Homo sapiens: one gene and its partners. The protein of the gene in region 2 interacts with the protein of the main gene of each other region in a pairwise test. Each region holds a gene or a part of one and is shown on either strand. Other genes may lie near its edges. The genes, in order: CDH2, PKP4, CDH5 and DSC3.

The links.
Region 1: the proteins of PKP4 (region 2) and CDH2 interact in a two-hybrid assay, tested with the Homo sapiens proteins (one study listed by BioGRID).
Region 3: the proteins of PKP4 (region 2) and CDH5 interact in a two-hybrid assay, tested with the Homo sapiens proteins (one study listed by BioGRID).
Region 4: the proteins of PKP4 (region 2) and DSC3 interact in a two-hybrid assay, tested with the Homo sapiens proteins (one study listed by BioGRID).

The regions. Positions count from the first base shown.
Region 1 is NC_000018.10:27,950,455-27,957,148, forward strand, and holds the end of CDH2 (cadherin-2 isoform 1 preproprotein), read right to left. Parts: intron 4,174-6,694; exon of another isoform or gene 4,064-4,173; intron 1,906-4,063; coding exon 1,699-1,905; 3' UTR 512-1,698; downstream 1-511. UniProt on the Homo sapiens protein: Calcium-dependent cell adhesion protein; preferentially mediates homotypic cell-cell adhesion by dimerization with a CDH2 chain from another cell. Cadherins may thus contribute to the sorting of heterogeneous cell types.
Region 2 is NC_000002.12:158,662,951-158,669,979, reverse strand, and holds part of PKP4 (plakophilin-4), read right to left. Parts: coding exon 6,892-7,029; intron 6,709-6,891; coding exon 6,535-6,708; intron 4,133-6,534; exon of another isoform or gene 3,899-4,132; intron 3,568-3,898; coding exon 3,417-3,567; coding exon of another isoform or gene 3,403-3,416; exon of another isoform or gene 3,316-3,402; intron 261-3,315; coding exon 65-260; intron 1-64. UniProt on the Homo sapiens protein: Plays a role as a regulator of Rho activity during cytokinesis. May play a role in junctional plaques.
Region 3 is NC_000016.10:66,383,681-66,390,709, reverse strand, and holds part of CDH5 (cadherin-5 preproprotein), read right to left. Parts: intron 3,902-7,029; coding exon 3,613-3,901; intron 2,387-3,612; coding exon 2,270-2,386; intron 1,353-2,269; coding exon 1,188-1,352; intron 335-1,187; coding exon of another isoform or gene 308-334; coding exon 120-307; intron 1-119. UniProt on the Homo sapiens protein: Cadherins are calcium-dependent cell adhesion proteins. They preferentially interact with themselves in a homophilic manner in connecting cells; cadherins may thus contribute to the sorting of heterogeneous cell types.
Region 4 is NC_000018.10:31,004,735-31,011,763, reverse strand, and holds part of DSC3 (desmocollin-3 isoform Dsc3a preproprotein), read left to right. Parts: intron 1-3,238; coding exon 3,239-3,495; intron 3,496-3,605; coding exon 3,606-3,748; intron 3,749-4,632; coding exon 4,633-4,857; intron 4,858-7,029. UniProt on the Homo sapiens protein: A component of desmosome cell-cell junctions which are required for positive regulation of cellular adhesion. Required for cell-cell adhesion in the epidermis, as a result required for the maintenance of the dermal cohesion and the dermal barrier function.

The DNA of each region.
Region 1 (6,694 bases), on a different chromosome or scaffold from region 2:
TCAAGTCAATGGATAAAGGCCAGTCAAATCTAAGTGTGTTTCACTAAGTACATAAAACGATGGCTTCAATGAATTGCACAAGAATTCCAGGTGTCCACTGCAGTTTCCAGGTTCAGTCCTATAACCCACTTTACTGAAGTTTCCCTTATGGTGGTGGCTCTAATGGGAAAGGCCTGTCAGTCAACAGAACAATTAACTTGAGCAGAAACAAATTAAAACATGAGTTATATTAAGAATTAACACCGAAGTTCACTGAAGGTAAAGGATGTGATTTTTCTATCACCACCAGTAGGGTCTATTCCTGAATCACTTGATGTTTTTCTTCTATGATGATGGGAAGGTCCAAAATGATTCTCTCTGCTGCACACCGTACATGGTTGCCATGCTACGCGTTTCAATGGTGAATAGTGCAAGAACAAATACATACTTTTTGTACTGTTGTTCCCAGTACTTGGGATTTTTGCAACATTCAAAGCAGCTCAAGTAGAAAAGAAAAAGTTCAAACCAGTCACCAGATCCAAAATTAGCATTTTATTCAGAACGCTGGGGTCAGAGGTGTATCATTTATATTCTGGTACACAATACAGAGGCAAAGCTGTTGTCAGAAGTCTCTCCAGTTTAAAAGCTTTTTTTTTTCCATTTTTTTTTTAAAAAAACACACACTTAGTAGTGCCACCAGTGTCAGGCCACCCCTTTCTTTCCTTTCCTTTTTTTTTTTTTTTGGTACAAATTATGTAAAACATTTGTGCTAAGAACTTTTCTCCCTCCCCAAACCAAAAAGAAAATAAAAAATAAAAAAATTAAAAAAATTAAAAATTGAGTATTCTAACTACAGCTCAACAATTGAATCAAATGTCACTGTTTTGTAAATACTTTATCCATAACGAAAGATATAAACATGCAAAAAACCTGAATCCATAGTCCAAATAATACATACACATGTTCTGAAGTTTCTGCACTTCTCCATAGACTATGCCAATAAAACATTATGTACACATACTATTTTTACAGTGAAGTGGAAAAATACAGAAATAAAAAAGTGTACATGGATTAAGACCAAAATGTGTCTAACATTCTAGTTTATGAAAAAATTCAATTTTGCTACAAATTGGTGATATGAAAACTCCCTTTATTTGCAACCAGCTGAGTAAGTTTTAAGATTTTAGTGAAAAAAAAAAAAACAAACTAAAGTCTAAAACTAGAAGTAATGTACATTTTCCAATCTCATGGTCTCATCCCCCAAGATAATAAAATCGCTCCATGAGTTTTTTTGTTTGTTTAATTTTGTATTTTAATAAAAGCAAATGCAATGTAACAAAAGCGTGTTGAAGCATATCATGGTTTAACTTACTGCTCCCACCACAAAATATTTTGTCTTTTACTTATCGTTTCAGAAATCAGTACCATTAAAGCCTTAAACAGAAAACTAATTCCAATCTGAAAAAGGTACAAAAAGGCACATAAAATCCCAGTGCTTCTGTACTGTAAAATTCAAGTGTAACTGAGCTCAGTGTTTTTCCAAACAGTATGGATCACTGATATTCCCTCTGAGCCCAAATTGGTTTGCAGCCTATGCCAAAGCCTCCAGCAAGCACTGTGCTAGTAGACTACAAAGTTAAAGCCTAGCTTCTGAATGCTTTTTGGGAATATCAGTTGAAATTGTTTGTACTTGTCCAAAAACCAAGTTCACCCTGAAGTTCAGTCATCACCTCCACCATACATGTCAGCAAGTTTCTTGAACCGTGGCCCCCAGTCGTTCAGGTAATCATAGTCCTGCTCACCACCACTACTTGAGGAATTAAGGGAGCTCAAGGACCCAGCAGTGGAGCCACTGCCTTCATAGTCAAACACTAACAGGGAGTCATATGGTGGAGCTGTGGGGTCATTGTCAGCCGCTTTAAGGCCCTGCAATTTGGAAACACAAAGAATGAAAGAATTAAGAGAGGGTTACACTTTACAAAACCACAAGCAGATCCTAATGAATTCACGGGATCAAACAAACACTTGTTTGTAAATTTCCATTTACATACCATATTTTCAACACATGGAAAAGGGAGATATAACCATTTGAAAGTTGGACAAAAATTAACTTATATCTTTCCGGTGCAAAGAAACAACCCTAAGCAGTCAAGCTCAGGGAGGCCAAGGCTTATGAAGGGAGGGGGTTAACTGGGTAATAAGTTGGACAGGTGGCAGAAATGAATGGCCCTGCTTGAGGCAGAGAAGAAAGGATCTTAAATAACATAATATATAGAGCAGCATTGCTAGATTAAATTTAAAAAAAGCACCTCACTGAAATACAAGAGACACACAAATGAGTACCATGTGGTCCATGTCCCTCCACAGGCTTACAGTCTAGCATAACAGGTATTACTACTGTGTGAAGCAAATGACAAGTGACAAAACTATGAAGTCAAAGCAAAAGCCATCAGGTTGTGGGGGAAAAAAATTCACATCAGCATTAAGAGCTAGGAGTTCAAAGAGAAAGTAGCATTGTATTTGACCTCATTTTGGAAGGACATCAAAGGAAGACTGAAGACAGGTCAGATGTGATTACTACATAAAGGGAGGTACTCAGAAAATCATTTATGTGACTAACATAGCATAAAATGTGGAATTAATTAATTGTAAACTGGTATTTTAAAAAATAGGGTATCTTCTAACTTCCAAAAAATCCTAGAAATGTCATAATCCAATATCTGTACACGGTATAAATATTGAAAAGAGGAGGACTCCTGTCAATCTAAAATAACATGCGTTATCTGGTTCTTATAAAGAATTTTAAGAAAAAAGAAACAAGGAAATAACTACTATCTATATTTGTAACTTTTGTAAGCAGATGCTTTTTAATATACAATTAGAGTCTCTATGCTCTGCAAAACTTCTAAGGATTTAGTATTAGGTCCTCTGGTATATTTTCTACTTAATTTTTTCCCCCAATTCCATTCTAGTACTCCTAGATACACTAACATTAGTCTCCAAACAATCGTTTGCTTTTTCCACACTCTACTTGTCAAATGCTAGTTGGCTTATATGGCCTCACCTATCTAAGATGTGTCACAGACAGTCCTACCCTTGAGAGATCAAGCCTGCCAATACACATGCATTTTATGAGCGCATACATGGGTTTTTATGAGCATGTGTTCACCTATCCTTTCAAGGTTACAAAGGAGAAACAGGGAAGAAGAGCAAAAAAATTAAGGTCAGAATCAGTATGGTGTAGTGGTTAAGAGATCAGACTGTGAGATGACACCTTAGCTCTCCCCAGTACTAGCTGTGGGACCTCCGCTTAACCTCATCTACAACTGTAATCATAATAATAGGACTATTATAAAGACCAAATGCAATAAAGGGACCCGAGGTCTCACCACAGTGACTGGCACATGTAGAGCTCAATGAATATTAGTTAGTATTTTTAAAAAATTTAAGTTTTGAGAAAAATGTCCTGCCTTGGGATTTGAAAAAATAAGAAACGATGAAGATATATTTTAAGAAACAAAATGGCAGCTGCTTGACTCACGTCAAAAATCAGAGAAAAAAGTACACATGACCAGTTTTCTCATCTCCAGGTACCTCTTTACTAACAATCCATGAAATTTAGCAGTACTTTACTACTTTTCGTCATGTCATTTTATACTGTTTATACTCCAGAAAAGCCTGTGTAAAATAAAATAAAGCAGGTTTCAGCAAAATACTTTGATATATACAACATAAATAACTTTAGATAGGATTTTATCTTATTTTTAGACTAAGCTACAAGGCAATTCTGCTAAGACTGAGAACCACAACCTACAATTTCTCAAAACTTGTAACTCCCTTCTGTGGTAGATTGTGTTACTGCCCTCAGTGATTCACTGCTCTTTTTCTGAAGGCAGAACACACACCCACACTCCCACAGAGCCTCTCTGGGGTCAGGGTTTACTTTCCCAACCACACTGTAAGGCTTGGCTGTCTGACTGGCTTTGGCCAATGCAATGTAAGTAGCTGTGAAAAGTACCCGCTTCAAGAACTCTATCTAATGTGTTTCCACCCTTCCACTAATCCCCCTTTCCCCCTCTGCCAGGAGAATGGCCTGCTCCAGATGGGAAGTTTATCTGCCTGGATCCTGAAACGAAGACGACATATGGATCAGGAACTGAGTCACTGACAGACTACAGCTGACTTACAACTTAAGTAAGAAGTAAACCTTCATTATTATAAGCAGCAATATTTTGGAGTGGTCAGTGATTGGTACCTTAGCTAACAAAAGCCGAAGAATGCACCTTCATTCATTTTGTTTGTGTTTATTCATTAGATTCAAGATGTATTTGTTGATTATCTATTAATATTATTGCAATGTATTCTGCTAACTGGTAGAGACACAGCTACTAATGAGCTAGATCCAATGGCTGCCCTCGTGGAGTTAATATTCACATATTAGCCTACACTCCTCTTCCCTACAAGATCTAGCAACTGCAAATTTAACCAACAGCGGATTGCCTTAGTTCAGCATTGTCTGACTTGGGGTCATACAAGTAGGCCCAAGAAGGATCTGAAGAAAAAACAAGAAAAATCAGGGAAATTCCTGATAAGGAGAATGGGTCCCTGAAAACAAATATTAAATTTTCATTATGACAATTGCTTTATAATACAGACAACAGAGACAATGGCTAAGATCACTTTGTTCAGGTCATCTGCTTTACCACAATTTAATTATTAAGCGAAAATACACACAGAGCCCTGGCCCAATCCTTATGATGTCAACACCAAACTGGAAATATGGAGAGGTCAAGACTCAAATTAGGGATAGCATTAGGAGAAATACCTAATGTAGATGATGGGTTGATGGATGCAGCAAACCACCATGGCACGTGTATACCTATGTAATAAACCTGCACATTCCGCACATGTATCTCAGAATTTAAAGTATAATAGTAAAAAAAAAAAAAAAAGAAAAAGAAAGAAAAAGAGAATGACAAGTTAAAAAAAAAAAAAAAGACTCAAATTAGCCCGAAAGGGTCAATGGCAAGGCCTCAAGTGTGTCTGAATTTGGAGGAGAAAAAAGGGATGGCCTGTGTTTACTATGTCCAGGGAATAAACACAAGAAGGGGTCTGGTCTTCCCTGGTGTGTTCACGGACCCCAGGACTCTTCATCAAATGACTAAGCCACCTAATTCAATTCCTTAAAATAAATATAATGCTTGTGATAATCAACTCCCATATCCACTATTGAGAGTCTAAAAAATATTATTTTCTTTATTTTTTAGCTCCTGCCCTGGCTTTCTGATCATCCTGGTAGTTTACAAATCTCTGTTTTCTTTATTTCTGTTTTTTTTTTTTTTTTTTTAAAGAGGTTAAGGCCATAAAATCCATTAGAGAGAGACCACTGTGCTATGCTAGAGCACGGCACATTGCCTTATGTTTTAATAATTACAAAAGGGCAAAATCACTGAACTTTTCAAGAGTTCTTAGACAAGCCAGCTTTCTATGCAGGTTAAGTACTTTAAATCCCTTCCATTTGGATAGCACTGATTTTTATCTGAGAATAAAATATGACTCTTCTGAACGAGGTATTATATAAACTCTTGGTAATATTTTGGTAATTCTAAAAAGATCGCACTGAAGTCCTAAGAAACTGACAGTAACAGGCACGAAATCTGAGTGAATGTACAGAAGAAATCCAGTGGGCAACAGAACCTTCTGGTTCTCCCTTATGGGATTCCTTTATTCTTGGATATGAACATTATTTCACAGGATGTACTGTTACCAAATTTACAAACTAAACGCCTGTGTTTCTCTAGGTTTGACTAAATTTAGCAAAGTATCCTCTTGTTCCACCTTTCCTGGAGAGGTAGATCTTGAATTCTGGATAAAGCTGAACTGTCTTCTAAAGACTGAGGCTTCTCTGCAGAGTGAGAGAGCTTGGCTCTGGCTGAATTCTTGCTGAGCTTGTATTTATAGACTTCTGATCCCAGGCTTTATGGGCGGAGACATGCTTTTATGAGGATAAAAACCCACATTATCCAGCGAGGAACACATGAGGGATGTAAAAGAAAAGAGGTCTTACTGTTTCCTTTACATTCTGTCTTCTACAGTCCTAGTGCCACTGCTTTAGTGGAGGTCATCATTATATCTTGCCTGGACCAGAGAAAAAGCCTGCCTAACTGGTCTTCGCCTGTCTCCAGCACTGTTCCAGCTTCTTTCCTACAAACTATTGGTTTCTGTCTCAAACGTTATTTGATATCACTCCCGCAAGTAAGACCTCTGACTGCTCTCTATGACTCCTTCCAAATGAAAGAGTTCCCCCGACAATGGGCAAAATGATTTTTAATTGGTGCATGAACACTTTAAAACAATTATTTAAGAAAATTAACTTAAAAATTGATGAACAGTTTAAGAAAATAACAAGAAGTACACAGAGAGGGAAAAAACTGGAAGGTGTTAACTCAAATGCCTGCTGTTGGGTAACCTACAGCATACAGTAAAACTCTTTAGAAAGCATTCAGTGAACCAAGACTGTTTACCCACCTTTTCTGTTTCAGCTATTCTCAGCTCCAGCAACCACGACTGAATTATGCACCCCCAAAGGGAATCCCCCCAAACCCCAAAGCATCATGTTCTTGTGCACTTCTATGTTGTTTATTCATTTTTTTTAGAATTATACTTCTTATATTTTTTATCTGATTAATATCCATCCATCCCATCCATCCATCCA
Region 2 (7,029 bases):
GGCCTCATCACAGGACAATCTCAGGAATAAGAGCACTGCTTGCACCTCCTTGCCGCAGACTTGCCTGTCGCCCCTGCCTTTGGTTATGTTCACCAGCTTCTCTATGCCTCCTGAGTCGGCCAGGGCTTTTGCGTTCTCCATGTTTTTGCTGGTGACCTCGTGCAGAGCACAGCAGATGGCTGCCATGGTCTCATCAGACAAGACACTGGGGCCATTGCCGCCGGGGAGCCGGTTGACCAGGTCTCGCATGGCGTATTTGCCTGCCAACGGCAAAAGAGTAAATTCTACTTCCAGAAGGTACTAGGTTTTTGTTATTGTTGTTCAGATTCTGGTGGCATGCAATCTCTTAAAAATAAAACCCCCAAAGAGACAATAATAGGGGAAAAAATCAAAACCCATGGCAAAGAAGAAAAGGACAAATGTCATTATAAGGGGAAAGCTAACATTTATTGCAACGTCACTTGCAGAAATGATTCATTTATAAAACATTACTGTCAATTGCTGAAAGCAAATGTAAATCAATGCGTAAAATTGGGTAGACAAATCAAGTTACTTTCGTTCGAGTATTTTCAGTAACATTGAGTAATGAAGGAATTATAATAGTAAATTTTATTCTCAATGGAATTCCTATGCATCACAAATACCTCAATTTCCTCTTAGAGCTTTTTAAAACTTACCTTTGAATCTGGACCAAGTCAGGCTGCCAAACAATACTTTTCGTTAGATCTTTCTGGATCTTAATGTATGAACTGGGTACAGTTACACATTTTTGTGTATAGAGCTGAGGTGTACAGCAACTCATCTGACAACGGTGGCAACATGTTAGTTTCTTTAAAAGATGACACAAGTAAAAGTTCTGGTATTAAAATTATAGGTATGTTATCTCCCAGGAATAATGCAATAATAATGAAATTCTTGCTAAGACAAGGCAAGGGGAGTTTCACAGTTATTGAGGTATTTCTTTATAGATACTGAATTTTTCTTATTCCTCTCCAAAAAGAGATTACCTCTAGCTTTTTCAACTTCGATTACCAACTGACAAACTGTAAGTGCACTACAAACAAAAGAAATGAACTAAAGTGCAAGTAAACATCTTCTTAGTTCTCCCCTATGCTAATAATTGAGTGGATGTGCAATCGCTTTTTATAAAGGCCTGTTTATTTACAGTGGTAAGCAGAAGAAGACAGGTCTCAGCTACATGCTGTGTGATGTACAGCACGTCAGAGGGAAGGCTCTGGCTTGCTCACGACAAACACTGCTATGAAGAGTGGAAAAACAGTGCTGACACTGTAAGGCCACAAGATAAATGTGGTTTTCAGAGCAGATGATAAGTTAGCTCTGGTGATTTTGAATACTCATGAATGACCAAAAGGCCCATGACATGTAATTTGTCATTTTGCTAAGGCATAACTTTAAATTGCACTCCTGGGGGTTAGGCCGAGGCAGCTCACTCTGCCTATGAATGAGTGAGCCTGGCGGTCCCCTCAGAACTTGCAGCTCCAGACAGCAGGGTGGGTCCCACTCAGTTGAGTATGTAGTAACTTTTATGAAGTGATAAAACTTTGCTTCTTTGTGAAAAATGGCTCTGAAAAGAAAGTCCTTTGCTAGTGCTGATGATGAATGTGAAAAAAGAGGGAAGAGGTCAGAGAAGGGGAAGGTTCCTAGGAACTGAAGTACTGGGTAAATTAGAGCCAAATACTGAATCCAAGAGTGAGGCAGATCTCACAGGAAGACGGGAATAGGGAAACAAAAAAACAGACTGATGGAACAGTTCAAGAGTGCTCCAGCCAGGTTAAAAAAAAAAAAAAAAAGCTCATCACTGGAGAGGCAGAAGGCCAGTGGAAGTTAAAAAGGGTTATTCACAGAAAACACAGAAATGCACTGAGAGGAAGCCAAGACTTGGAACACACATTCCTCTTGCCAAAGGTCTTAGCACTTCACAGTACCAGCTCAAGGACTCCTGTCTACCTGTGTCTTTGCGTTGTGAAATATGACAGGCCACAGGATATACGTGTCAACCATTTATTTTTTAGCATTAAAAATGCCCAAATTATACATGCTTCTTATAAGAAATCCAAACAATACAGACGTAAGAAAAATAACTTTAAAGAATATCTCTCTTTAGGGACCTGAAGGATTTCTGTAAAGGAAGTGTGGGAACTGAGAGATATGGCACATCTACAAGAATCAGGCATGAGCTGGACCATGAACAGGGTGAGGAGGAACTTCCTTTCCTCTCCGTAGGGGGATGATTTGGCTTAAAGGAATGGTGTGTTAAGAGCAGGTTAATCTGGGCAACAATTCAAAATAGCAATTCTGTCAGGCACTGTGTGAAGGGCTTCCATTGTAAGTCATCACGTTTAATCCTTACAGCAATTCTTTATGGTAAACATCATCGCCCTTGTTTCTCTCTCCTTCTCTCATGGCAGGTGTATTTTAAGTTTACTATAGATTCACATGAATCCACATAAGATCTTGTCCCATTTCCCCTCCTTCTCCCCTGACCTGTCACCAGCTGTGGGACTTGGCATGGAGCTCTCTCATTTCCTCTTTACAGCAAACCCAGTTAGGACAGCAGGCATCAACAGCTCCCCTTCAGAGATGAGGAGTTGCCTTTCATTTCCAATCTAGATAGAATTACGGAGCCTGAACGGGGTTATATAGGATACCCCAGGTTGCATGGCCAGTGAGCAGCACATCCTGGGAACGAAGCTCAGGTTTATGGGGGTCCCTGATGTCTTCTTTAGCCCGCATCCTGCCTAGGATGTGGCAATGCCGCAGAGGCAAGCAAGCTGCCTGGGGTGCGGAGCGTACAGAGGTCCTCACTGTTTGGTTTGTGCATGTGCCAACCCTACCTTGTACAAACCTGAGAGTAAAGGCCTCCTAAAATGTTGTGCCTTTGGCGCCTTGCTTAGCTCACCCTAGTCCTGCCCCTGCCCAGGGTGGAAATGATGTTGGGACAGTGGTTCTTCTCTGGGATAAAGATTTATACCAATGTGAGAGGGGAAAGCTACAAAACATTCATGTGATTTTTTATTTAGAGTATGGTAGTGTTGGTGAATTAGCAGGTAGCAGTCCAAAAATTGGAAAGGGAGATTAAGATTTTTTGTTGCTCAGGATATAGAGAACTCTCTTAGAAATGAGAGACATTAACCCTACTAGTGTTGTAAGGTACAACTAAAATTGCTGGCCTTTCTGAAAATTTACCTTCCCTAATCAATGACTAATTAATGAGCTTGCCTCCTGCTGAAAAAGAATGGTCACAAAACAGGAGTACTCAAATATGCCAAGAAACTGGAGACTAGGGCTCAGCTGTTAATGATTTTACAAGCCATATATTTATTAATCAAAAGAAGAGTTTCATGAATTTTGTAGCTGCTCTCACATTTACAGCTCATCTTGTCACCAGAACATACCTATGAGCTCCTTGTTGCGAACATCTAGTGCCATATTCCTCAAGGCTGTTGCCACGGAAGAAACAACTCTATCGTTATCCATTCTCAGAAGCTCCACAAGGATGGGGAGCCCCTTTTCTTTTCGGACGGCCGCCCGGATATATGCTGCAAACTAGTGAGAAAAATAAGGCAGGAAGTAACATAAAACAGAGTTCCAGTCTCATATGTTACTGTCACCTAAAAAAGATGTTTCCAAAAGATGAACTAATAGATTAAATGGTTTCTTTCCAATTGAAGATCAAATCTGTGGTGTCAGTGAAGAGAAAACCAAAGTTGGGGAGAAAGATAGGCTGGAATGACTGATTTAAAAAGAAATCCCAAAGCCTGAAAATCTCAAACCACCATCTGCCAGATATTTTTGTGCAGAAAAGAGAAGGCAGTGATTACTTTCTATCTCAGATACATAAACATGATTAAGGAAGGATCGTGTGTTTTCTTTGCAGTTGGTCCCCTGCCAAACCCAGAGGCTATAAATAGGATGGCAGAGACAGTAACCCATCAGCACACATGAAAGGAGAACCTGTCTCCATCAAGTCATTTTTTTTCTATATTCCCTGCAACAATATTTCGAGTTCAGAAACCTGTCAAAGAGATTAGTTGGAAAAATCCCTTGCCTCAGAAGAAAGGGAAATCTCCAGAAACATCCAGCATCATAATTCATACAGCCTGGTGAAAAAGTAAGTATATTTGTGTGCAAAATGCATTCTCACTCAAGATTAGTTAGCTGCTGATGCTGTTTTTTAAAAATCCATAGTCAAGAAATTTTTCTGTGACTATGAAGCAACTCTGTACTGTGAGTCAGTTTGTATATCTTATAAAATGGAAATGAGCGCTAAGTCATCAGTGAAACAACCAAAAAGAGTAACGTTAGAAAACGGTTCTTTAATCTTGTTTCCAGCTTTGAGCTTTAATTGACTTTTTCAACCAATGCAAATCATCTTTCAAATTTTAGGGTAATTGAAAGATGCTGCTCATAAAACATATACTTTCCTGCTGTGACCAAGACAGTAGGACAGAGATCTACCAGCCCTTTGTATTATTTCGAACATTAAAATATGTGATTGACCATCCAGTTTCTTGAATACCAACAGAATATTTTAATAATACAAATAAGAGGGAAAGATGCATTTCAAAGATCCTATTTATATTCTGCATATGAAATGCATACTCCTATTTTTCAAATCACATGAAATCTATGGGGGGAAAATGAAGTACATGACTGGTTACTAGGCAAAGCACTCAGGCAGTTTTATGAACTTCTCTCTGAAACCTGCAACAACAGAACCATCTCCTTCTGTCTCACTTGGAGACCTACCAGCCCAGCCCAGCCCAGCCCGTCTCCCTTCTGGAGAACTACAGTCATCACTGCTCCTGAAATAGCTTCTTACTTGATAACATCTGTGGCCACGATTATCTCATTTTCTTAGTGAAGGTCCAATATTTTAACTCACTATTGAAATCGCTTAGATATAATGTTTATATTTTAAATGAGCTTTGCCATCTAACTCTCTCACTAAATGATCCCAGACATGAACTTCTAAATAAGTCAAATCACATCGATTTCAATTACTGTCTTTTATTATCATCAAATGATCCTCTGGTCACAGAAGCTGAAGGTGAACGCTGTTCTACAACATAAATGTTTATAAATACTTATGTGCTGGGAGTATCTCACTAAATCCTCATAACCACTTTATAAGGCAGGTATTAATATTCACTTTATTTTAGGGAGGTGGAAACTGTGGGCAGAGCCCCTAGGCTGCCAGACGGTAAGCAGAGTGGCCTGGATTCAGAGCCAGCACTTACACACTCAGTCACTGGCACTTTAACTAGGAGCCACAACAAAATAACCACACCGGCTTAGCACTAGACCATAGTTATCGCTCTATATTCAACATAGTGGCCACGTGCACGAAACAAACCATACCTAGGCTTATCAATGCTTTTCACTATCTTGAAAACACCATCACCAAAAGATTCTCATTTTGGGGGGTTAAGGTGGGGGAAGAAGCCCACAGCAAGCATTGTAGTAACTCTACTAAAATACACCTGTCAAGAAATTACTAGAGGTTGAAAATGTCTCAGACAAGGACTGTCTGGGAAGTTGCTGGGGGACATTTAGAAAGTTCTGAGAACTTGCTTACAGTGGTAACAAAAGGAAACTGTCTTCAGTTTTCATACTCATACATTTGCAAAAAGATGCAGAAACCTTAGACACAGGCATGTCTGTAACGGTCTGAGAGGAACAGAGGTCCTCTATCCCTCCCCACAGTGCTGCCCAACCTGTGTTCTGTCCTGCCACTCAAGATTTCTCACCTTTGTATTGCTGCACTGGCTCCCAAATCCAATCCCTGCTTCTAACTCTCCCTTCCTCGAATCCACCTTTTGCACTGCCATGGAAGTGGGGGAGCAGTGATGATATTAGCCCGTCTCTGTCACTCATCTGCCCAGACTCTTTCGGTAGTCCCTCCTGTGTGTAGGTTAGGATTCAGCTCCTGAAGTTTGGCCTTCAGGCCTATCCATGATGCCTGGCTCCATGGTGGGCCCCAGTGGGCAGCCAGTAGTCCTGGCCCACACGTCTTCTCTGCACCACAAGACTGTCCTCCTCCTGTTGTCCCTGTTATCTGGATGGCTCCTTCCATACCACAGCCTCAGCCTCTACAGGCTTACTTTCACTCATCTTCAGAGATTCTGCCGGGCAGCATCCCCTTCAGGAAATCTCCTCCACGTCCTTACTCCGCTCTTTTCCTGACCTTCCCTTACACTGTGTGGCTGGGTTAGATGTCTTCTTTCAGGACCCCACAGCACATACATCCTGTGGCTTCTACACTGTGCTGGCACCATCTGTTTTTCTCACTAGCCTTCTGTTTCTCATAGTGAGGGACTTGTATTTATCTTTGTATCCCCAGAGCAACTGCTTGTCTCCCTTTTTTCCCTTTAACCCCTTCACACACAAGCTAAGTAGCTGTGACCCTTTCACCATCAGGGCTGATCTGACTGAGGCAGAACATATATATATAACATTTCAAGTTAGTTTGCAAAGATGGAAAGAAGTGTAGATAAGTGGAAGTCATCCTACCTTCCAGTTGCCAGCAGAGAGGTTCTGGAGAGACCCTGCAGAGCCTTCCAAGGTGGCTGGGTTGGAACTTTCTGCTAGAAGAGTCAGATATGGTTTTACCACCGATGGGTGCCACAGCATCTCAACCCCTTTGGGGGACTTCGACAGTCCTGGGATAGGACCAACTCCATCCCACTGAAAGACAAACAGCACACGTTAAATGGAGGCAGAATGAACATGATCTCCAATACTTGAAAACATTCACCTTTGCGGGACTCAGCTATAGCTATGCAGAAAATTTATTTTCTTGCCAAATATGTGATTCCTCACTCCCAGAAAAATTAAACTTGAGAGTCTCATATAAAATAAAATGCTAACTTGATCTTCTTGCGGAGTCCTCTTTTTCTTTTTCTTCTTCTTCCCCCAGCAACTTGGCTCAGAGTCTTTGCTGGGAGACTCTTTTCCTAGTAAGTCATCCAATTCGTTCAGTCCCAGTAACCGGGCCTGGGGCACCTC
Region 3 (7,029 bases), on a different chromosome or scaffold from region 2:
CCTTGGAGCTTTGATGGTCCTTTGATGGTCTCTGGCCCAGGAGCAATCCCCAAGCAGGACCTGTGGGTGCCAAGAGCCCCAAGCCTCACGTTTGACATTGTTGCCATTGGCCTACAAACCTTCATGGGCTTGATGATGCCCTCGTTGTGGGCGGGGTTTGTCTCAATGGTGAAAGCGTCCTGGTAGTCGCCCCGCAAGATGCTGTACTTGGTCATCCGGTTCTGGGGCTCATCTGGGTCCTCAACAAACAGAGAGCCCACAGAGGTGCCCACACGGGTGTCTTCAGGCACGACAAATGTGTACTTGGCTGATGCAAACAGAGCACCCCAAAGGGCTTTGGGTTAATGAGATAGACAAGGCGATTGCCTCTTTCAGCTATTCTAACATATTTTGATAAAAGAAATGGGCATAATAAAATAATCATAAATAATAATACCCCTGGGATTCTCAAGGTAAAGAGGGTCTTCCCTATCTGTATGTCCATCCATCCATCCCTCCATCCAATAAATAGCTATTGAGCACCTATTGTATGCCAGGCACTTTGCTAGGGGACCTATCAATGGACAAGAGAGACAAGTCCTGCCTTCAGGGAGCTTATGCCATGTACGAGGAAGCCACTTCAGGACAATTGGCCTGTCTCTAGGGTGGCTGAACAACTGAATGACAGTATCAGCACTGGGAGTTGCAAGTGGAGAGCCATCTGCCCCAGGCATGGGAAAAGCTCTCATTAGACATTCTCTGTGGGGTGGATCAGTGTGTAGGTGGGGTCAGGGCCCAGCCCTGGCTCTGGATATAGAACTTTGCTGTCCCCATGTTCACTGGCTTGTGGGAATTTCTAGCTGGGACCTGAGTCTCAGGGCTTTGATTTTCCCAAGCCCATGGGATCTGGGTGAAACTGCTTGTGTCTCATGGTGGGACACAGTACAGTGGTGGCACCCAGCAGGGAGTGGGATTTCCCTCTGGCCTATGAGGGGATTGTGGCAGGGGGCGGCAGGATGGCCTTGGGAATGTGGTATTGGGATGGAAGCAGGGCCCCTCCCTTCACCCAAAGGACTCCTTTGGGCATCAGGCCTACCCTGGGATAGAGGGAGAGGTAAAGTGATTTGTAACTCTTTTCCCAGAGCCCCAAGTCACTGAGTCTGGGGTATCCCAGCCCCCCTTCCCAGGGCCCTAGAGGAGGGGCTCACTCTGGGTGAAGAAGGGGAAGTTGTCATTGATGTCTTGCAGAGTGACCAGCACGGTGGCCGTGCCCGAGTCCCCCCGGAGGCCCTGGGCATCTCGCGCTTCCACCACGATCTCATACCTGGCCTGCTTCTCTCGGTCCAAGCTTTTCGTTATTGTGATAATACGTCCTGCAAAAAGATTCCCAGCAGGAACCATGTTACCAGCTTCTAGAAAATACCGATGCCTAGGGCCTGCCCAGAGAGAACCTGACTTAAGAGCTTCCCTGGTGATTCCACTGTGCAAATGGGGCTGAGAACTGTGAGTCTACAACCCACTACCTCCATAGCCTATACTGTGAGGCCAAAGCTGGCCCAATAGTTGGGTTCGGTATTGGTCCTCGCCACCTGAAATATTGTGTTGACAAAGACCATGAGGCCATATCTAGGCTCAGATGGAAAGAGTGCTGTGATAGATTAGTGATGTCTGCCTTGGTGCACTGTAGCATAGTAGTGGCATCTGTGCTATGTATTTGCCATCTCTCTGAAAGACAGTTCCACTGGACTTCTTTCTTGCTCCCAAGAGTCAGTCCTTATATTTTTTGTTAAGTCATCACATAAGCAATTACTATGGGCCTTGCTGCCTTTATACATGATCTAACTCAAACTTTACAGCTACCATACGATATAAATATAAGCATTCCTACCTCCTAGATGAGGGAACTAAGGCTTGCAGAAGTTAGTTGATTTGTCCAAGGTCTCTAGAGGGGGTGAGTGGCAGAGCTGGCTTTGGAAACCAGATCTGTCTGAACCTGCACCCAGAGCGGCTAGCCACCATCCTCTGCTGCCCCTTGGCCACTTCTTGGGTAACAAGATCCTGATTTTGTTCCCTGGACTTGAGTCCACCTCTTGGGCACCTGCCTGCTTCCTTCTCCCTTGACCAGCCGCCTTGTCTTTACATATGATACTGACTACTTCCATGGTACAGTGTGGTTCAGTAGCTAGTGACACCTGTCAGACTGGACTTCCCTTAGCACATGCACCTGGAGTATCCACCTCCCCTTGTCCCTCCAAATCAGTGACTGTCCAGGAGTGTTAGTCACACAGACCAGAATTATCGATGGCAAAATACTCTTTCCCCTTCAGGATTTGGTACATGACAGAGGCGTGGTCTCCCACAGTGGGGTCGTCTGCATCCACTGCTGTCACAGAGATGACTGAGGTCCCTGCAGAGAGAGAATCCTGGGGTTGCTGACTTGTGACTGCTAGGCCCCTTACCCCATTCCTGGAACAGAGCAGATGGGGCTCAGGCTGTGCTCTGTCCCCACCTCCCCCAGGTCCTGGGAATAAAAGGCTGTTTTGTTTTCTGAGGAGCCTGCATGGGGGCAAAGTGCTGGTGGCAGTGGGGGCCCAGCCAGGTCAACCTTGAAGGGGTCAAAGAGATCAGGTGGTTTGTGTGCTTCCTGGGGAAATGAGGGAGGGGGCGGAGGGTTGGGGTCAGGGAGAGAAATGGAGGACAGCAATGAGCTGCTTCTCCCTCTCCTGGAAAGGTGCCCCCAAAGGAGTGGTGTCATTTCTTGCATCCCCTTGAACTCCAGGATCTCACACTCAACCCGAAGGTCTGGTCCCAGGGCCCTGGCTGGAGACTCTGGACTGAAGAGGGAAGCTCTTTTCTGGCACCCTCTGGAGTCTGAGGTGTACTGAAGAGGTGGAGTAGTAACCTCCTGAGCCCAGAGCCCAGGCTGGTGACATACCTTGGGGCTAGTGCTCTGTCCCCCACACCACTCCTGCATGGCCCCTAGAGATGAATCCTTTTGCCTTAGTGGCAGGCCATGACAGTCGTCACATGTAAAGGCTACACTCTTGGTGTGCTAGTCCTGACAGTCAGAGGAAGTGAGTGAAGTTTGTTCCAAAGAGTAGTGAGATATGCCTCTGATGGCCAGGGGTGAGTTCATGATCAAAATCAGGGCACAGTCTATGACTAGGGTCAGGACTCAGTCCATGATCAGAATCAGGGCTCAGTCTATGACTAGGGGCAGGGCTCAGTCCATGATCAGGATCAGGGCTAAGTTTATGACTAGGGTCAGGGCTCAGTCCACGATCAGGATCAGGGCTTGGTCTGTGACCAGTGTCAGGGTTCAACCCATGATCAGGATCAGGGCTCAGTCCAGGATCAGGATCAGGGCCAAGTTTATGACTGTAGTCAGGGCTCAGTCCATGATTAGGATCAGGGCTTGGTCTATGACTAGGGTCAGAGCTCAGCCTGTGGCCAGATCAGAGCTTGTTAGGAACTAGAGTTTCTTTCAAATCATGTAAAGTGGCAACACAGGCATTACAATCACTACCCTGAACTCACTGGATTCCTACCCCAGGCAGTGAAGTGGCTGATGTGAGAGGTGCCCCCAGGCTGGGGATGAGGGAGGGAGGAGGACAGAGTGGGCATGCAACGTACCCACAGCCGACGACTCAGGCACGGACGCATTGAACAACCGATGCGTGAACACAGGCCAGTTGTCGTTCACGTCATGAACTTTGATGGTGAAGCTGGAAGGAGTCTCCAGGTTTTCGCCAGTGTCCTTGTCCACAATGACAGCAGTGAGGTGGTACTCTGAGATATTCTCCCGGTCCAGCCTCTCAATGGCGAACACGTCTCCTGTCTCTGCATCGACCCGGAAGACCTTGCCCACATATTCTCCTTTGAGCAGGTACTTGGCATTCTTGCGACTCACGCTTGACTTGATCTAGAAAAGAAGAGGTGACGTGAGCTGGGAATGGGCGGCAGTGGCTGTGTGTGAGTGTGTGAGTGAGAGTGTGTGTACACAGGTGTGCCTGTGCATGTGTGTATGTGGTGTGTGTGGTGCTGGCCAGGGTCCCTAAATATGATACTGAGATTTTTTATCAAGAACCTCTGGCAGCCATAAAAAAGAATAAAATCATGTCCTTTGCAGGAACATGGATAGAGCTGCAGGCCATAATCCTAAATGAACCTAAGTGAACTAACCCAGAAGCAACAAATCCAATACCACATATTCTCACTTATAAGTAGGAGCTAAACAATTGGTACATATGGCCATAAAAATGGAAATAATAGACACTGGAGACTCCAAAAGAGGGGAGGTTGGGATGAGGGCGAGGGTAGACAAATAACCTATTGGCCATAATGTTCACTATTTGGGTAATGGGTATGCTAGAAGCCCAATCCCCACGAATATGCAATATACATGTAACAAACATGGACATGTACCCCTGAAAATAAAATTTTTAAAAAGCCAAAAAAAAAAAAGAACCTCTGACTAGTCACCAATGAGTTGTTCTCATGGTGTGAGTTGCCTGGCAGAGCCCCAGCATGCCTAGAATGGTGCCTGAACAGAGTAGGTGCTTAGAAAACATTTTTTGAGTGGAAAAAATATACCTGGTGCCATTGGAAGGCAAAGGATATTTTTGCCCTGTAGAAGTCACTTAACCTCTCTAAGTTTTAGTTGCCTCATTTGTAAAATGGAAATATTGCTTCTGATGTTGCTTTGCTCTGAGGAGTAGAACAGCACTTTTGAAGATGAGTTCTGGGAAACACTGAACTCTTCTGCTGTTCCACGCAAAGATGGGGTCCTAGCCAGTGGTGTGCTGGCGCTGGATTGTATCAGCTTGGCTTTCAAGAACCAGCTTAAATTTTCAGGAATATTTGTGAGCTGATTGTTAAATACAGCCACTATTACAAATTAAATTATATGAACTTACAATTAAATAAATCATGAAAAACAACGAATTCTCAGAATTCATCGCTTCCTAATTGTTTTGCTACCTTTGACTGTGTTTTGAGGTTATCTGTGTTTATGGTATCTGTATGATGGAAATGCTACATAATGATGTGCTCATGAGGATCTTCTCCTGTCTTGTCTTGGCCTTCGATGACATCACATTGATAGCTTGAAATGAGACATGGTGAGAATATTTACACCATGGAAATTGGCAAGTGCTACGCATCAGAACTTTTCCCCTGGACAGCCAGTTGTCAAACATATATCAGCACACCCCTGGGCCCAGTACAGAAAATGGTGCATAAAATATTCTCTTCTTGGAGATTTACAATGTACAGCTCTGCAGAAAAGAACTCCAGTGAGCTTTGTGTAACTCAGGATTTTCCATACTTCTTAGACCACAGAACCATTTTTCTGTGTAACATGTACTGTTCATGTCCCAAGGAGTAAGATTTGGAAAATAATATATGTAAAGCATCTTACACCAAACAGGGTTCTATAAATGCTAGCTAATAATTATCAATAATAGAGCCACAGGTTAGAGGATCTCCATTTAAAGAATCATAGAAACAGAAAATATTAGGAACGGTATAGTTCCTATAGAATAGTATTCTATGCATATACAATGATACTCTCATAGAAGGTTAGTATGTCCCCAAAATAGAATTCTATTCAATTAAAAAATATAACTTGGTGCCTGGGAGGTGCCAGGCCCCCACTAGGAGTACAGAGGGTACAGATCCCATTGTGGCTCTCAGGATCTAGGTTTGCAGCCTCAGAGGCTGGCATGCTGAGGAAGTGCAACATTGCTTTTTTGTTTGTTTGTTTGTTTTTTGAGTTTAGCTCTGTTGCCCAGGCTGGAGTGCAGTGGCACGATCTTGGCTCACTGCAACCTCCGCCTCCTGGGTTCAAGCGATTATTCTGCCTCAGCCTCCTGAGTAGCTGGGATTATAGGCATGTGCCACCGTGCCTGGCTAATTTTTCTATTTTTAGTAGAGACAGGGTTTCACCATGTTGGCCAGGCTGGTCTCAAACTCCTGACCTCAAGTGATCTGCCTGCCTTGGCCTCCCAAAGTGCTGTGATTACAGGTGTGAGCCACCACGCCCAGCCTCTTTTTTTTTTTTTTTTTTTTGAGACAGGTACTCCGGAGTAGCTGGGACTACAAGTGTGCACCACCAAGCTCGGCTAATTTTTGTATTTTTTTGTAGAGATGAGGTCTCACTATGTTGTCCAGGCTGTTGTCAAACTCCTGGGCTCAAGCAATTCTCCTGCCTTGGCCTCTCAGAATGCTGGGATTACAGGCATGAGCTACTGAGTCTGCCTCACATTATTTAAAGTCAAATAGAGCAAGGGCTTTTGTGTGAAGGCATCTGGTGAGGACTCTTTAGAAAGGCTGGACTCGGGGGGCATGGTGGCTCATGCCTGTAATCCCAGCACTTTGGGAGTCCAAGGTGGGTGGATCACTTGAGGTCAGAAGTTTGAGACCAGCCTGGCCAACATGGTGAAACCCCATCTCTATTAAAAATACAAAAAAAAAAAATTAGCTGGGTGTGGTGGCACACCCAGCTGTAGTCTCAGCTACTTGGGAGGCTGAGGGAGGAGGATCATTTGAGCCTGGGAGGCAGAGGTTGCAGTGAGCCAAGATCACGCCACTGCACTCCAGCCTGGGTGACAGAGCGAGACTCAGACTCAAAAAAAAAAAAAAAAAAAAAAAAGGCTGGACTCCTCCAGAGAACTCAAGAGAGGCTGGGGTCTCAAGAAAGAAGAGGGAGATTCCAGAGGGTATGGCCACATCCCATGAGGTCTGGAAAGTGTCCCCAGGGTTTAGCAGCAGTGCAGTCATTGGAGCCCTCAGTGAGGGCACTGACAGGGGTTGATAGGGTGGGAAGTTAGATGATGCAGCCTAGGGAAGATTCTAGAAGGGGAGGAAGTGGAGACAGGGAGTGAGGATTGCCCCCTTGGTCGGGCAGGGTGGGAGAGAGGTGGGCAGCAACAAGCATCTTGGAGCAAGGCTGTGGCGTGCAGGGGGCAGGTGGGTTCATGAGGAGGTACTAAGGCCCAGTGGCCAGGATGCATGATGAACAGCTGGACTAGAGGCAAGAAGCCATGCCTC
Region 4 (7,029 bases), on a different chromosome or scaffold from region 2:
GCCTTGGCCTCCCAAAGTGCTAGGATTACAGACGTGAGCCACCGTGCCTGGCATCTTTAAGTACTTTTTAATCTCAGTGAGTCATCTTTTATTTGAAAATCAAACACTGTATAATCATGGTGTTCAAAATCCATGTTTCTGTCATGTAGGCTATGTACCTAATGATGACTAACCTTTTGAGTACTGATTAAAGAATGACATCACTATGTTGTTAACTCTAAAGGAATCCTCCTCTTCCAATGCCCTGGTTCTTCCTTGCTAGTCAGAATTATATCCAGGGAAAGAGTGCATGTTATTCATTCCTTTATACCTCAAAGAGTTAAGTAATCAGTAGGCCAAACCAAGAATTGCTCTGGTATACTTTTAGCTGAATAAAGCTTGCAAACATTGTCTTACTAGTTAGCGTCTCCTTTTATTGCAATATATTGGCTGTTAACAAAAACATACAGCATTTATTCCCTTCATTCGCCTCTGTGACAGCTTGAGAGATTACTCAGAATTTAGTGTAAAGCCTTATTTTATGCTGTAGTGTTAAATGTCATTCTTACAACAATTTCACAGAAGAGAAGAGTTAAAGAGACTAAATAACTTTCCCAATGCCACACAGCTAGGATGTAGTGTAGACAGAATTTGAACCTAGCTCTTTGACTCTAACTATACGCTGTCAAGCACTATGTTAAATTGTTTTCCACAGCTGTGTGATCTTGGAAAGTTGGCCTCTGTGTTATCTGTAAAATGGGAACAATACTTCTTTCTGCCTCCCTAATAGCTCTTCAAATATAATATTGAACGTAACAGCACTTGGTAAACTGTGGGATATTATTATTTTATTTTAAAAAGTTATGCTATGTCCTTGAGACTAGTGTTATAATGTTCCAAAATAGATAACTTTTCTGTAACCACAAAGCATGAGTGATACAGGCTTTTGCTGTGTTCTGGGTAAACTCATTCCACCTCAGTGGCTTCTGTCCATTGGAGCAGCAGCAGTGACGCATATGGGCTTGAGTGAGGATAGTATTATTCTTGGTCCTTCTCAACATGGAGAGTCCTCAGCTCCATTTCCACAACTATACATTTTCTAGGGAGTTGTTAACATCTCAGTGCAGATGTGGGATATTTTTAAGCACTTTTTTTAAGTGGCGAAACAAAAACGTACCCTGAGGTGGAAGAGAATTTACAGGCTTTCCTATTAATTAATGAGATTAACTAATCCCATTAATCTTTAGGATTTCATCTCACCAGATTTTTAATTTTGGAGAGTTTTAAGCTACTAAAACAATATCCATCTTAAGCCTCGAAAAATGGGACAAAGAAACTCCAAGGCTTCAGCGAGTGTTTCTGGATTGAATAGTTGCACCTCCTCCAGTGCAGCAGCTGTTCTCTAAATTTCCATCCATTTCTCATTGCCAGCAGTTGCTCTTACTCTCTGTGTGATCACACCAGCACATGAAATGTGTGAAACAGTATTCATCAGCATCAAACGAACAGATATTAATATTTTTTTCCTTGACTCTCCAGTTTGTGGGATATACATACAAAATAAAAAAAGGTTTTACATATGTTTTGTAGATTCTAAGATTCAGAAACTTTCTTGACTTTTTAGTGGACTCGTGATACTAATGTCTTACTCTGTTAATACCTAGGTGTGGAGAAAGATTTAAAATAATTTTATTCACCAGTTTTGATTTTGTTCAATGTTTAGCCAGTGATTGTTTTGATAAGCAGAAAGAGAAATTGAAGAAAAAGTGCTTCAACTTTATAGTACAGTGTAACATAATGTTTTATGGGTTTTACTTGATTTGTTATCTAAAACTGAATTTTAGTCAAAGATTGATTTGGAAATTTTTTAGAGATCAGTGAGCCAATTAAGCAGCACACGATAGCAGAGGGATTATAGCGTAGGCTAAGGAAATGGACTCAGGTCAGACTACCTGGCTTCAAATTCAAGCTCAAATGATTATCTTTTGGTCTTAAAAAAAAATCAGTTTATCTCCTTTTCCCGTTTTCTGCTCTGTAAAATGAGGATGAGGTCAATAATACTTACTTCATAATGTCATGAGGATTTAGTGAGTTTATTTTCACTGTTAGAGTAGTGCCTTAGATTCAATGATAATTAAAATCAATCACATAGTATTTCCCTTACTCCTCTGTGTATCCACTGTGAATGTTTCATTGGATAAATTATAGACAATGCCAAAGTATAATTCTCAAGTTTTCAAAAATGTAATTTTCATAAAAACAGGTAGTGGGCATGGATGGATAAAGGTTTTAACTCATTCATGAAGGAACCAGCAAAAAGACAAGTTGATTCCTAAGAAGAAATGAGACTCTGGATGGATTTTGATAAAAGAAAAGCAGCAATTAGATGGCTCAGTTAGATGCCTTAGAGGGCAATTAAAACACACATTTGGGGCCGGGCATGGTGGTTCACGCCTGTAATCCCAGCATTTAGGGATGCCAAGGGAGGTGGATCACCTGAGTTCAGGAGTTCGAGACCAGCCTAAGATGGCAGAACCCCATCTTTACTAAAGAAAAAAATACAAAAATTAGCTGATTATGGTGGCACGTGCCTGTAGTCCCAGCTACATGGGAGGCTGAGGCAGGAGAATCGCTTGAACCAAAGAGGCAGAGGTTGCAGTAAGCCAAGATTGCGCCACTGCTCTCCAGCCTGGGTGACAGAATGAGGCAAGACTCTGTCTCAAAAATAAAATAAAAGAAAATAAAATACTGGAGATATCTTTTCTATGAGACAGAAAATGAAATCATTGCACCTTTTGGTTTTGTGAAAGTCAACATCAAACTTTACAAGAGTTATAAAATGCCTGGGCCATAGTCAGTAGTAACTGATAAGCCAAATAAAGGCAACTTCCCATACTCAGATGACCGTTAGCCCAGCCTGTTAGACAGTGCTCCAAGCAGGACCATAAGAATACTGTCATCTGTTTGCATTACTTTTTGAATCAGAGTAATTTTCCTTAGTAAGAGTGAAATATGAAAATATTTCCGGAATTTCGTTTGTCCAACTCTATGAAACTACCTGCAGAAGTTGTTGGACCATTCTTGGTAGAGGCTTAGCACGGGATCCACTCTCTGTTTAGCAAGGGATAAAAGTCAGTATTAACAACATGTGAACATAGAATTTATGCAGCACTGGTCAGGATGACAAATGTTCACTTGCCATTTGAAATGCCAGATGTATTTTACACTGACACTGATATACATGGACTTTATTTTAAAGCCACTGAATTATGAAGAAAACCGTCAAGTGAACCTGGAAATTGGAGTAAACAATGAAGCGCCATTTGCTAGAGATATTCCCAGAGTGACAGCCTTGAACAGAGCCTTGGTTACAGTTCATGTGAGGGATCTGGATGAGGGGCCTGAATGCACTCCTGCAGCCCAATATGTGCGGATTAAAGAAAACTTAGCAGTGGGGTCAAAGATCAACGGCTATAAGGCATATGACCCCGAAAATAGAAATGGCAATGGTTTAAGGTAAAAATAAATCTATAACCACATACTAATAATGTATTTGTAATCATTGAGATAGTAACTTATTTGAAAACATTTTCTGATGCTAAAGACTATTTTTTTTTTATTAACAGGTACAAAAAATTGCATGATCCTAAAGGTTGGATCACCATTGATGAAATTTCAGGGTCAATCATAACTTCCAAAATCCTGGATAGGGAGGTTGAAACTCCCAAAAATGAGTTGTATAATATTACAGTCCTGGCAATAGACAAAGGTAAAAAAAAAGTTTTAATCTGGTATTCTATAAAGGAATTAGAGAATAAAATGTAATTATTCTTATGCAGATTTATTTTGGTGGTAAGTGTATGGAATTCTTTGAAATTACTTTAAAGACTCTTTCTGTCTCTCTTAATTATCTAACAAGGTGAAACTGTTTGGTGACAAGAAGCCGTGTTTTATTTATCTTTATATCCCCAATAGGGCAGGACCTTAAATTCTTATGTATTTCTATGCTAGAGGACAAAAATAAAACTGAAATCTAAAACTAGATAAAATGGTCTCATCAGACTCTTCCACATCCGTTTGTGTCACTTTAAATTGAGCTTTTATATAGTTCAGCTGCATATTAGGTCAAAATGATCCTTTTCTTGAATTCTGTTCCTTAAAGTAACCTAGAGTTTTTCAACCTTGTCTTCACATTAAAATAAAAATATTAATCTGTAGATACTTTGTTAGACTAACTGAATCAGAATATCCGGTTGTGGAGCCTAGGAATCTTATATTTTAAAAAAATCTTCCTAGTGGTTTGAATATATACTGGGATTAGAAATCTTATCTGTAACCACTTTACTGCTTACTAACATGTGGCACCTGGAACCCCCAAAAATAGAGATTGAAATTCAGACATTTATTTTTATTTGGTAGTAATTCTGGTAAAAGATTTATTGACAGTTGTATCTGATATTATCAGTAGCAATAGTCATTTCAAATTAGCTGCAGATTCTATTTATCTGTCTATGTTCTTATTTATTTATCATTTCCTTTAATAATCAGTTTATTTAAAAACAGATCATGTATAGAATATAATTGACTTTTTATTCTTTAAGAAACTATGAAAGAATTTTAAAATAACACTAAACCTTATTCCTGTCTCCTTAGATGATAGATCATGTACTGGAACACTTGCTGTGAACATTGAAGATGTAAATGATAATCCACCAGAAATACTTCAAGAATATGTAGTCATTTGCAAACCAAAAATGGGGTATACCGACATTTTAGCTGTTGATCCTGATGAACCTGTCCATGGAGCTCCATTTTATTTCAGTTTGCCCAATACTTCTCCAGAAATCAGTAGACTGTGGAGCCTCACCAAAGTTAATGGTATTTAATAAAAAATAATGATTTATAAACTCTGAAATAACAGAATAACTGGAGGATAGATTGACTTGCTTACTTACACAAAGCATGAAGTAAAACTGAGTCTCATTAATATATTTTAGAAGGATAAACTAACCTTTTACAAATATTATATGGGGGCTCTGTTATATATAAAATGAAGGAAGATGTAATTTTTATGAAGGCAACATTTACATTTACAACAAAGGAAAGCTTTGTTAAAATGTTGGGCAGCTTATCATTAAGACAAACTTTGTGTGTGTGTGTGCATGTTTTTAAAAATAATGCCAATGGCTGGGCATGGTGACTCATGCCTGTAATCCCAGCACTTTGGGAGGCCTAGGTGGGTGGATCACTTGAGGTCAGGAGTTCAAGACCAGCCTGGCCAACATGGTGAAACCCCATCTCTGTTAAAAATACATAAATTAGCTGGGCGTGGTGGCAGGCACCTGTAATCCAAGCTACTGGGGAGGCTGAGGCAGCAGAATCACTTAAACCAGTAGGTGGAAGTTGCAGTGAGCTGAGAGATGGTGCCACTGCACTCCAGCCTGGGGGACAGAGGGAGACTCCGTCTCAAAATAATAATAATAATAATAATACCAGCGAGGTGAGGAGAGAGCAGAAGATGTGTAGTTTAAATTGTATTGTAAGCTGACTCTGGAAGTGAGGAACTCAGGTGTATAGACCAAGCACTCTAGGGTATCCTGGAAGTGAACCTGGCGGGATATAGCAAGGGATATGGGAAGGAGTATTGAGGGGCTGCTGCCTATTGTAGCAGTTTCTGGGGGCTGTCATGTTCTGTACTTCATCCATACTTCATTCTGTTGTTACTGCCATGTTCTTTCATGCAACTGGGCTTTTGTGTATATAGCCATATCTACATAGAATACCTCCTTTTCCATTTCTTAGCTTGATATTTATGAGCATGATATTTTTTTCATGATATTTATGAACATCTACTATCTATTAAGCACTCGTCCAGATCCTGAGGATTTATATAGAGATGAACAAGACAGACACAATCCCAGCTGAGATGCTCCACCTCTGAAGTTTGTCTTGAATTGGAAGGAGTGGCACCATGACCCTTCGCTACCTGCATTGCAGTGCCTTTCCTGTTGTATTAACATCTGATTACTTCTCCCTTCCAATACATGAGTTTCCTAGAATGTTTGCAATTCATCTTTGTACTTCCAGCACCTAGCCTAATGCTTAGTAGATACTAACTGCTTCATAAATGTTTGCTTGTTCAATAATTGATTAATAATGTGCATAAAAGAAGAAACATACCAGGAGAATAAGTATATCCATGTCATTAGAGTTTAGAAGGTTTTAGTAAGAATGCCAAGAGGTTGGGTGGAAGGAAGGGTAGCATCTGGTGGTGAAGGGCCTTGTGTGCCAGGCTGAGGGGACTAACCTTGGTACAGTAGGCAACAGCAATTATGCATTGGGAATGTGCAAATAAGGCAATGCCATTCCCAGATTTACATCTTTTAAAGGTGACACTGTTGACAGGAGGACAATATGAAGGGGGCAGAGTTGAGTGAAGAAAAATCAGAGGCCAATGCACTACTGTGAATAACTGAGACATGACAATGGCTCCACTTGTTGTCTTGAGGGAGCGGAGAGATTTCAAGGATCTTACCTTAGACACAGTGTGGTCTTGAAGGGTCCTAAGTAAACCCAAGTGGTAATTCATATTCCTCTAGGGAGCCTTCAGGTATGAGGTGCAGCCAAAATCTTTGAAATTCTTACAGCTACAGCAGAGCATTTAATCAAGGCTTAGGAATTCCAGATGACTTCCAGGGTGTGTATTATGCTACTTTTTCATTTTACTTAGTCTATTATAAAAGCTCAGGGAGGCTGTAACTGCCATTGAAATTCTGTGGAGCTTTTGGTTAGTTGACAATATGGTCATTAAAATAATAGATCAAGACTATTGGGGAAAATTGACTATCAGAGTTGATAAAAGTGAATTGTTATATAGATATTTCTGTTTTGTGTAAGCCTTATAAGTAGCCTGAGTGACATTAATTAGCTTCTGGTACTAAGATTACTTCCAGATGCAAAGGTGTTAATCGTAAACAATCTATTGTGCTTTGAAAAATTACCTTATCCATATGAATAGTGCGCAAATACTAGAAGGTCAATGGATAAGAA